3 separate regions of the Homo sapiens genome follow, and regions 1 and 3 are each linked to region 2. The links come from fine-mapping of genetic effects on gene expression. A gene starts in region 2. Each other region holds a variant in brackets. All regions are shown on one strand. Distances are from middle to middle.

Region 1 (2,713 bases), 340 kb after region 2:
TTTTTTTTTTTGAGATGGAGTTTCAGTCTTATTGCCCAGGCTGAAGTGCAATGGCGTGATCTCAGCTCACTGCAACCTCAGCCTCCTGGGTTCAAGCTATTCTCCTGTCTCAGCCTCCGGAGTGGCTGGGATTACAGGTGCATGCCACCATGCCCAGCTAATTTTTGTATTTTTAGTAGAGATGGGGTTTCACCATGTCGACCAGGCTGGTCTCAAACTCCTGACCTCAGGTGATCTGCCTGCCTTGGCCTCCCAAAGTGCTGGAATTACAGGCATGAGCTACCATGCCTGGCCTTTTTTTTTTTTTTTTTTTGAGACAAAGTCTTGCTCTTTTTCCCAGGCTGGAGTGCAGTGGCCACAATCTTGGCTCACTGCAACCTCTGCCTCCTGAGTTCAAGCAGTTCTCCTGCCTCAGCCTCCTGAGTAGCTGGGATTACAGACATGTACCACCATGCCAAGTTAATTTTTGTATTTTTTGTAGAGACTAGGTTTTACCATGTTGGCCAGGCTGGTCCTGAACTCCTGACTTAAAGTGATCCATCTGCCTTGGCTTCCCAAAGTGCTGGGGTTACAGGCATGAGCTATCGCGCCTGGCCTGAGAAATCTCATTCTTACTCCTACTCCCTTGCACACTATCTCCATTCTGTAGGTAGCCATTTCTATTAATTTCTTGTTTACCCTTCTGTGTTTCTTTCATTCTTTTTCTTTTTTTCTTTTTTTTTTTTGAGACAATCTTGCTCTGTTGCCCAGACTGGAGTGCAGTGGTGTGATCTTGGCTCACCGCAACCTCCACCTCCTGGGTTCAAGTGATTTTCATGACTCAGCCACCTAAGTAGTTGGGATTACAGCGCCTGGTGTACACTACCACACCCAGCTAATTTGTGTATTTTTAGTAGAGATGGGGTTTCACCATGTTGTCCAGGCTAATCTCCAACTCTTGGCCTCAAGGGATCTGCCTGTCTCAGCCTCCCAAAGTGCTGGGATTATAGGCATGAGCCACCATGCCTGGCCCTATGTTTCTTTTTATAAAAATAAGCAAATTAATATTTTTATTACTATTTTCCTTTTATTTTTACACATCAAGTAGAACATTAAATATATTTCTCTGTAATTTTTTTCAGTTACCTAAATCTTTTAGTGATCTCTCTCATCTTTTTAATCAGCTGGATCGCATTCTATCATGTGAATATTTTATAACTTCTATATACTGTCACCAGCAGGTAGCGATTTAGTTGTGTCTAATATTTTAAAATGATATATAATGCCTCAATGAATATAGTAACCTTTTGCATATATTGTTTTGTGCTTTGGGATAACACTACCTCGTATTGGAAACTGTGTCATTACATGTGTCTTTAAAATTACATGTGTCTTTTTATTTTTATTTTTATTTTTTTTGAGTGGGAGTTTCACTCTTGTTGCCCAGGCTGGAGTGCAGTGGTGAGATCTCGGCCGACTGCAACTTCCGCCTCCCGGGTTCAAGCGATTCTCCTGCCTCAGCCTCCCCAGTAGGTGAGATTACAGGTGCCTGCCACCACGCCCAGCTAATTTTTGTATTTTTAGTAGGGACGGGGTTTCACCATGTTGGCCAGGCTGGTATCGGTCTGCTGACCTCAGGTGATCCT[C/T]CCACCTCAGCCTCCCAAAGTGCTGGGATTACAGACGTGAGCCACCATGCCTGGCCATCACTTTTTTTTTTTTCTTAATTGCTGCATAGTGGCCGGGCACAGTGGCTCACGCCTGTAATCCCAGCACTTTGGGAGGCCAAGGCAGGCGGCGGATCATGAGGTCAGGAGACCAATACCATCCTGGCTAACATGGTGAAACCCCGTCTCTACTAAAAATACAAAAAAATTTAGCTGGGCGTCGTGGCGGGCGCCTGTAGTCCCAGCTACTTGGGAGGTTGAGGCAGGAGAATGGTGTGAACCCGGGACGTGGAGCTTGCAGTGAGCCAAGATTGCACCACTGCACTCCAGCCTGGGTGATGGAGTGAGACTCTGTCTCAAAAACAAACAAACAAACAAAAAAATTGCTGCATAGTATTCCATTGTATGAGTAGTAACACAACAATTTTTATAATGCATAGTATTCCATTGTATGAATAGTAATGTAGCACTATTTGTTTATACATTTTTATGATTAAAAAACAAAATGTTTTTCTATTATGAATAAAGTGGCAATGAATATTTTTGTACAAGTGTTTTGGTAGCTATACAGTTATTGTCACTTAATATATGCAATTCGATAGGCCAGTCATTCAAAATAGAAGATATACAAGGTAGGCCGGGCGTGGTGGCTCACGCCTGTAATCTCAGCACTTTGGGAGGCCGAGGTGGGTGGATCACCTGTGGTTAGGAGTTTCAGACCAGCCTGACCAACATGGAGAAACCTCATCTCTACTAAAAATACAAAAGTAGCTGAGCGTGGTGGCGCATTCCTGTAATCCCAGCTTCTTGGGAGGCTGAGGTAGGAGAATCACTTGAACCTGGATTTATAATGTATGTAAATCCACCGCGAAGGTTGCGGTGAACCGAGATCACGTCATTGCACTCCAGCCTGGGCAATAAGAGCGAAACTCCATCTCAAAAAAAAAAAAAAAAGATATGCAAGGTAAAGATACTAATAAAGACCTTTGTGTTGAGTTGGTTGACATGTGGTTATTTCACCCATCGTATTTCTTATAGGGAATAGGTAAATTCGTTCCTTGGGTTTCTTT
Region 2 (2,762 bases):
CCGCCCCCCGCTCCCAAAACGATTCCCACCTTGGAGAGAAGCCTCCAATTTAGTAACATCCACATGAGGTCTATAAATACGATGTCTACTTTTGTAAAAACCACTGACCTTGAAGCTTCCTCACCATTAAGTGAGATAGACCAAGACCATAAAACCATCTAAGAGGAAAGGAAATGCAAAAAGGACCAATCCAATTACACATTTCGGTTATTGGAAAAGGGTTTCTCCCAAACTCAAAATCTGTGATTTTTCACTACCAGGGTAAATGGATGAGATGACATCAAGGTCTTCAAGTCTGCGGGTTGAGGTAAGAGTTGTGGAGAGGGATCTGCTTAGCACAGGGAAGGAAAGCTGCAGAGAAAACCACAGAGAAGCTGCAGAAAGGAGAAGCCCTCCAGTAGCTCTGCATGCCCCTCTGACACGAGCTATCACAATCTCTTCACCGCTATTTTAGGCCCAAGACCCCCTCCCCCCGCCTCCCACGTGTGACCAGAGTAGCTGCTTCTCCACCCAACAGCTCTGGATTGGGAGCCTGGAATCTCGGGCCTGCTCCTGACTCGATCTGGGTGACCTTGCGTCAGCCCCTTCCCCACTCCGGACCTCAGTTTCTCCTATGCACCGAAGCCCACCTAGTCAGACAACCCTCTAGGCCCAATTCCCGTAAATAAAAAAAAATCTCTGGTAGGGAATCTTCCCTCAGGCAGGGCGTCCCACCCTCGTGCCGGAGCCGGCTTCCACCTTCGGGGAGATCTCCGGTCTCCCTAGGAGCGGCGGTAACGATGCAGCCTGCGGGTAGCGCAGGTGTCTGCAGAACCACGCGTCCCACGGGGCCTGCCAAGCAGGCCAGCTCTGCCGACCAGCTGCTGCCCAGACCGCGCCACTACCACCCCAAGGCTGAGGAAGGTTGGGCCGGCGCCTACGCGAGGCCCGCGGCTGCGGCCTAGTGGCCCGCGCGGCCCGCCCCCCTGCGCCTGCCCGGCCCGCGCGCCGGCCCTCAGCACCCCTCCTGGGCTTTCGCCCCAGCCTCGGCAGCCCTCGGCGCGTCGGGCTGGCGAGCGGGCTGGTCCAAGACACTCACCGTAAATGGGCCGGAGGCGCCTGTCGTTAGGGTCCTGCACATGGCCCCGCGTCGCCATGATGACAAGCGCAGAACCACAGTGCGCACGCGCGGGGCAGGACCCCGGGAAAGGGCTATTAAAGGGCCAGCGTCGATCTCGCTTGTCTATCACGATAGTCGCGGTGCTGCGACTGAACGCGCCTGCGCGGAAAGGGAAGCATCCACCCTTGCCGATTGCCACCTCTTTAAACGCTGTTCCTTCACTTAGCAGGTGGGATCAAGCTGGCAAGAGGAGGCAGCTGTTGCTGTTAAAGTCTTCCGAGTCACTGACTGGGAAGTTAGGAGAGGAGGGGAGAAAGCTCTCAAAGTTAGGGTTCGGCTGCTCCTGTTTATCCTATTTATTCTCCGTCCTGAAGAACCAGCTAGACTTGGCTGTGATTAATCGCAGAGGAACCAGAAACTCCCGGGGGAGAGAGACCCAGGGGAAAGTTGGGGAAGCGGGGCTGATCAACAGCAAAAATCTGCCAAAAAAGTTCGAGAGAGCCGGGCGCTGTGGCTCAGCCTGTAATCCCAGCACTTTGGGAGGCCGAGGCGGGCGGATCACAAGGTCAGGAGATCGAGACCATCCTGGCTAACACGGTGAAACCCCATCTCTACTAAAAATACAAAAAAAGTTAGCGGGGCGTAGTGGCGGGCGCCTGTAGTCCCAGCTACTCATGAGGCTGAGGCAGGAGAATGGCGTGAACCCAGGAGGCGGAGCTTGCAGTAAGCCGAGATCGCGCCACTGCACCCCAGCCTGGGCGACAGAGCGAGACTCCATCTCAAAAAAAAAAAAAAAAAAAGAAAAAAGTTCGAGAGCCCTCCACCACCTGTTCCTGGACCAAACTGAGCGTCAGGCTGCTGTTTCTCCTGGTTCAGTAAGGAGATGCAGATGAACTGGAGAGGAAGCGAGTTTTTATTTCTGCAACCAGTTACAGGGAGAAGGCCTGGAAATTATCACCAGACCAACTTAAAATTACAAAGCTTTCCAGAGCTTATATACCTTCTAAGCTATATGTCTACGTGTAAATGTGCATTCATCTAAAGACATAAGTGATTAACTCGCCGGGCGCGGTGGCTCATGCCTGTAATCCCAGCACTTTGGGAGGCCAAGGCGGGCGGATCACGAGGTCAGGAGATCGAGACCACGGTGAAACCCCATCTCTACTAAAAATACAAAAAATTAGCTGGGCGCAGTGACAGGCGCCTGTAGTCCCAGCTACTAGGGAGGCTGAGGCAGGAGAATGGCGTGAACCCGGAAGGCGGAGCTTGCAGTGAGCCGAGATCCCGGCACTGCACTCCAGCCTGGGCGAGGGAGGCTCCGTCTCAAAAAAAAAAAAATAATAATAATAATAATTGATTAACTCACTTTAGTCTATAACTAAGGTTTGAGTCCTGAAGACTTTCCTTTGAAGCCTCAGTAAATTTACTTAATCTAAATGGCAATAGGTGCTGGGGTGATTATCCTTATCTTGCCTCCTACTAAATCACGGAGGTTTGGGGAGTTACTTCAGACCCCCAATAAAATTTGTTTAATCCTAAATGGGTCCTGTTAGGAATTCTTTCGTTATTTTGTCATGCTTTAAGGCCAAGGAAAGGCCTAGGCAAAACTCTTGGTGGGCTTTTGTTACATTCCATCCTTTGTATAAGGGCACTGGCTTTTTTT
Region 3 (2,762 bases), 76 kb before region 2:
ACTAGAGGCGCCCACCACCACGCCCGGCTAATTTTTTTGTATTTTTTTAGTAGAGACAGCGTTTCACCGTGTTAGCCAGGATGGTCTCCATCTCCTGACTTCGTGATCTGCCTCCCTCCGCCTCCCAAAGTGCTGGGATTACAGGCGTGAGCCACTGTGCCCAGCCCATGTCTGCTTTTTTTAATCAATCTTTGGTAATGTGAACTGCTCTGAGCCCTTTCCCACAGTAAGCACTCTGTTCAAAGTCTAACGTTTTTAAGCTTTACAAAAGAGGGGCTTACAATCTCTTAAGGCTGGTGTGCTAAGGAAAATTCTATTCATTCCCTTCCCTATGAAGGTCTGGGGCTATGATGATGGCTGCCCTCAGGTTACTGGATAAATTCCCTCATCAGCAGTTTAGCTCAGCAGTTTAGCTCAGACAAACTCCCGGAGGGAAGCATTTTCTTAAGATCAGTTTCATCACTGGACCAACAGGCTAGAAACAGACGACTCCACCACTGTCCTTCTTGCCCCTACCAAAATCCTAAACCTACTCCAGGCCGGTGAATTAACATTTACAAAAAAGAATCGTCATTTTAAGGGCAAAGGCTTTATAAGGATTTTGCTAACTAATAGAATTTGAAAAGACCTAAAATAATATCAGAAGACATTTGATGGTGGTACCTTTGATTCCATACTTGGTTTCATTCCCTTTTTGGTTGGCTTGCTCTAGCCTAATTATTACTGACATAATTACTTCTCATGTCCAGCATTTCTCCTTTCTCAGGTGATAACTGGGTGGCAAGGAAGACAGCTAACTCAGCAGCAGGTAAATTCTATTCAAGAAGATTGTCCCTGGATTTCAAAATATGGCTGGTTCCATGTTGCTCAAAATGCTGGCATTAGTTTTCATAGTAAAAGAACAACCCCAAAAATGCATAGAAAGGAGGACGTATGGGGAGAAATGAAGAGGGGAAAAAACCTACCACCAACAACACAACAAGAAACTACTGCCAAGCACCTTCTAGTCACAAGTCTTATAAAGAGGAAATGATAAATTGAACTTTAACTTGTCCTTGTGATAAAGATGAGAGAGAGAGACAGAGTGTTTGTGTGTGTGTAGAAAACATTGCCGATTGCCTACAATCTCTTACCGGTGAGAGAGAAGTGTCTTCTAAAATAAGTTCTTCAAGTTTAAGTGCAATTA[G/T]ATGTGTTTCAAGCCCTTTAATATGATCCACAACATTGGAAATTAAAGTCTGAAGCCCAGTAACATAGTCTTGGAAACTGGTAAAGACAGGTGGCTGGGAAAAAGATTAAAAAAGAGTTGAAACATTATCAAACATATTACCCATATCTACATCACAAAAGCTACTGAAAGATGTGAGGGAATTTAAATAGTGGCATTTCAAACCAGTGGTTTCAAGTGAATGAATGGTACTAAAATAACCAGCTAGACATTTGGAGATACAAAATAACACAGTAATATTAAAATAAATTTCCGATAGATTAAATACTTAAATAAAAAAAAATCCATCAAAGCACTGGAAGAAAATTAGGTAACAACTTCTGCAATCATGACACTGACAGCTGAAAAACCCTTTCTAAACATCACACAAAGCTAAAAACCATTAAAAAGATTATCCTTGTTTTTAAAAATATTACTACATTGACAAAAAAAAAATCACTCAAGTTAAAAGACAAATAACAAACTGAAAAAAAAACTGCATCACCTATGACAGGGGATTAGTAACATTATTATGTTAAGAACCCAGTAGCTCAACACATATAAATAGGAAAAATATTACTACCACAATAAGAAACTTGGACAAAGAATAGAAGACATATCAAAGAAATCCAAGAAACATGTGATACAACTAAAAAACCTAGCCAATCAATTAATAAAGCTAGCTTTTCACTCAAGAAGTATTCTTGGACAGTTCAATATCAATAAAATTTTAAAAATCAGTATTAGAAAAAGGAGATACCAATATTCACCTACCAGATGGTTAAAGATACATACTCAACACTGTTGGGGATGAGTACAAATGTATATATGCATATACATTTATTAACTGTATAAATGTATATATACAGTTAATTTCAGATCTAAGAGCTATCCTAAAGAAACTATATTATAGGCCAGGTGTGGTGGCTCATGCCTGTAATGCCAGCACTTTGGGAGGCTGAGGCGGGTGGATCACTTGAGGTCAGGAGTTCAAGACCAGACTGGCCAACATGGTAAAACCCCATCTCTACTAAAAATATGGCCAGGCGCAGTGGCTCACGCCTGTAATCCCAGCACTTTGGGAGGCTGAGGCAGGCGGATCACTTGAGGTCAGGAGTTCAAGACCAGCCTGGCCAACATGGTGAAATCCCATCTCTACTAAAAATACAAAAATTAGCCGTGCATGGTGGCAGGCGCCTGTAATCCCAGCTACTCCGGAGGCTGAGGCAGGAGAATTGTTTGAACCTGGGAGGCGTAAGTTGCAGTGAGCCGAGACCGCGCCACTGGACTCCAGCCTGGGTAACAGAGCGAGACTCCGTCTCAAAAACAACAACAACAACAACAACAACAACAACAAAATTAGCTGGGCGTGGTGGCACACGCCTGTAGTCCCAGCTACTCGGAAGCCTGAGGGAGAAGAATCGCTTGAACTCAGGAGGCGGCGGCTGCAGTGAGCTGAGATCCGCCGCCACTGCACTCCAGCCTGGGCGACAGTGAGACTCTGTCTCAAAAAAAAAAAAAAAAAGAAAAGAAAAGAAATTATATTATAAATGTATCT

What was found. PIP is the estimated chance that this variant, and not a neighbour inherited with it, causes the effect.
Region 1: its variant is the best candidate, but not a certain one, in a credible set for the expression of NAA25 in nucleus accumbens (GTEx, PIP 0.68).
Region 3: its variant is the best candidate, but not a certain one, in a credible set for the expression of NAA25 in whole blood (TOPMed, PIP 0.59).

Annotation. Positions count from the first base shown.
Region 1 is chr12:112,447,506-112,450,218 of GRCh38, forward strand. All of the region lies in intron 2 of PTPN11 (protein tyrosine phosphatase non-receptor type 11), which reads left to right. Among named protein-coding and RNA genes, the nearest start is that of PTPN11, 30 kb to the left of the region's middle. The variant C/T (reference allele first, on the strand shown) is at 1,626.
Region 2 is chr12:112,107,638-112,110,399 of GRCh38, forward strand. It overlaps NAA25 (N-alpha-acetyltransferase 25, NatB auxiliary subunit), which reads right to left and starts at 1,146. Exons shown (of 24, transcript NM_024953.4): 1 at 1,079-1,146. The coding sequence starts at 1,136. RefSeq lists silencers at 916-995, 1,016-1,095.
Region 3 is chr12:112,032,100-112,034,861 of GRCh38, forward strand. NAA25 (N-alpha-acetyltransferase 25, NatB auxiliary subunit) reads right to left here. Exons shown (of 24, transcript NM_024953.4): 23 at 1,134-1,280. Among named protein-coding and RNA genes, the nearest start is that of MIR3657, 4.2 kb to the right of the region's middle. RefSeq lists an enhancer at 1,104-1,605. The variant G/T (reference allele first, on the strand shown) is at 1,187.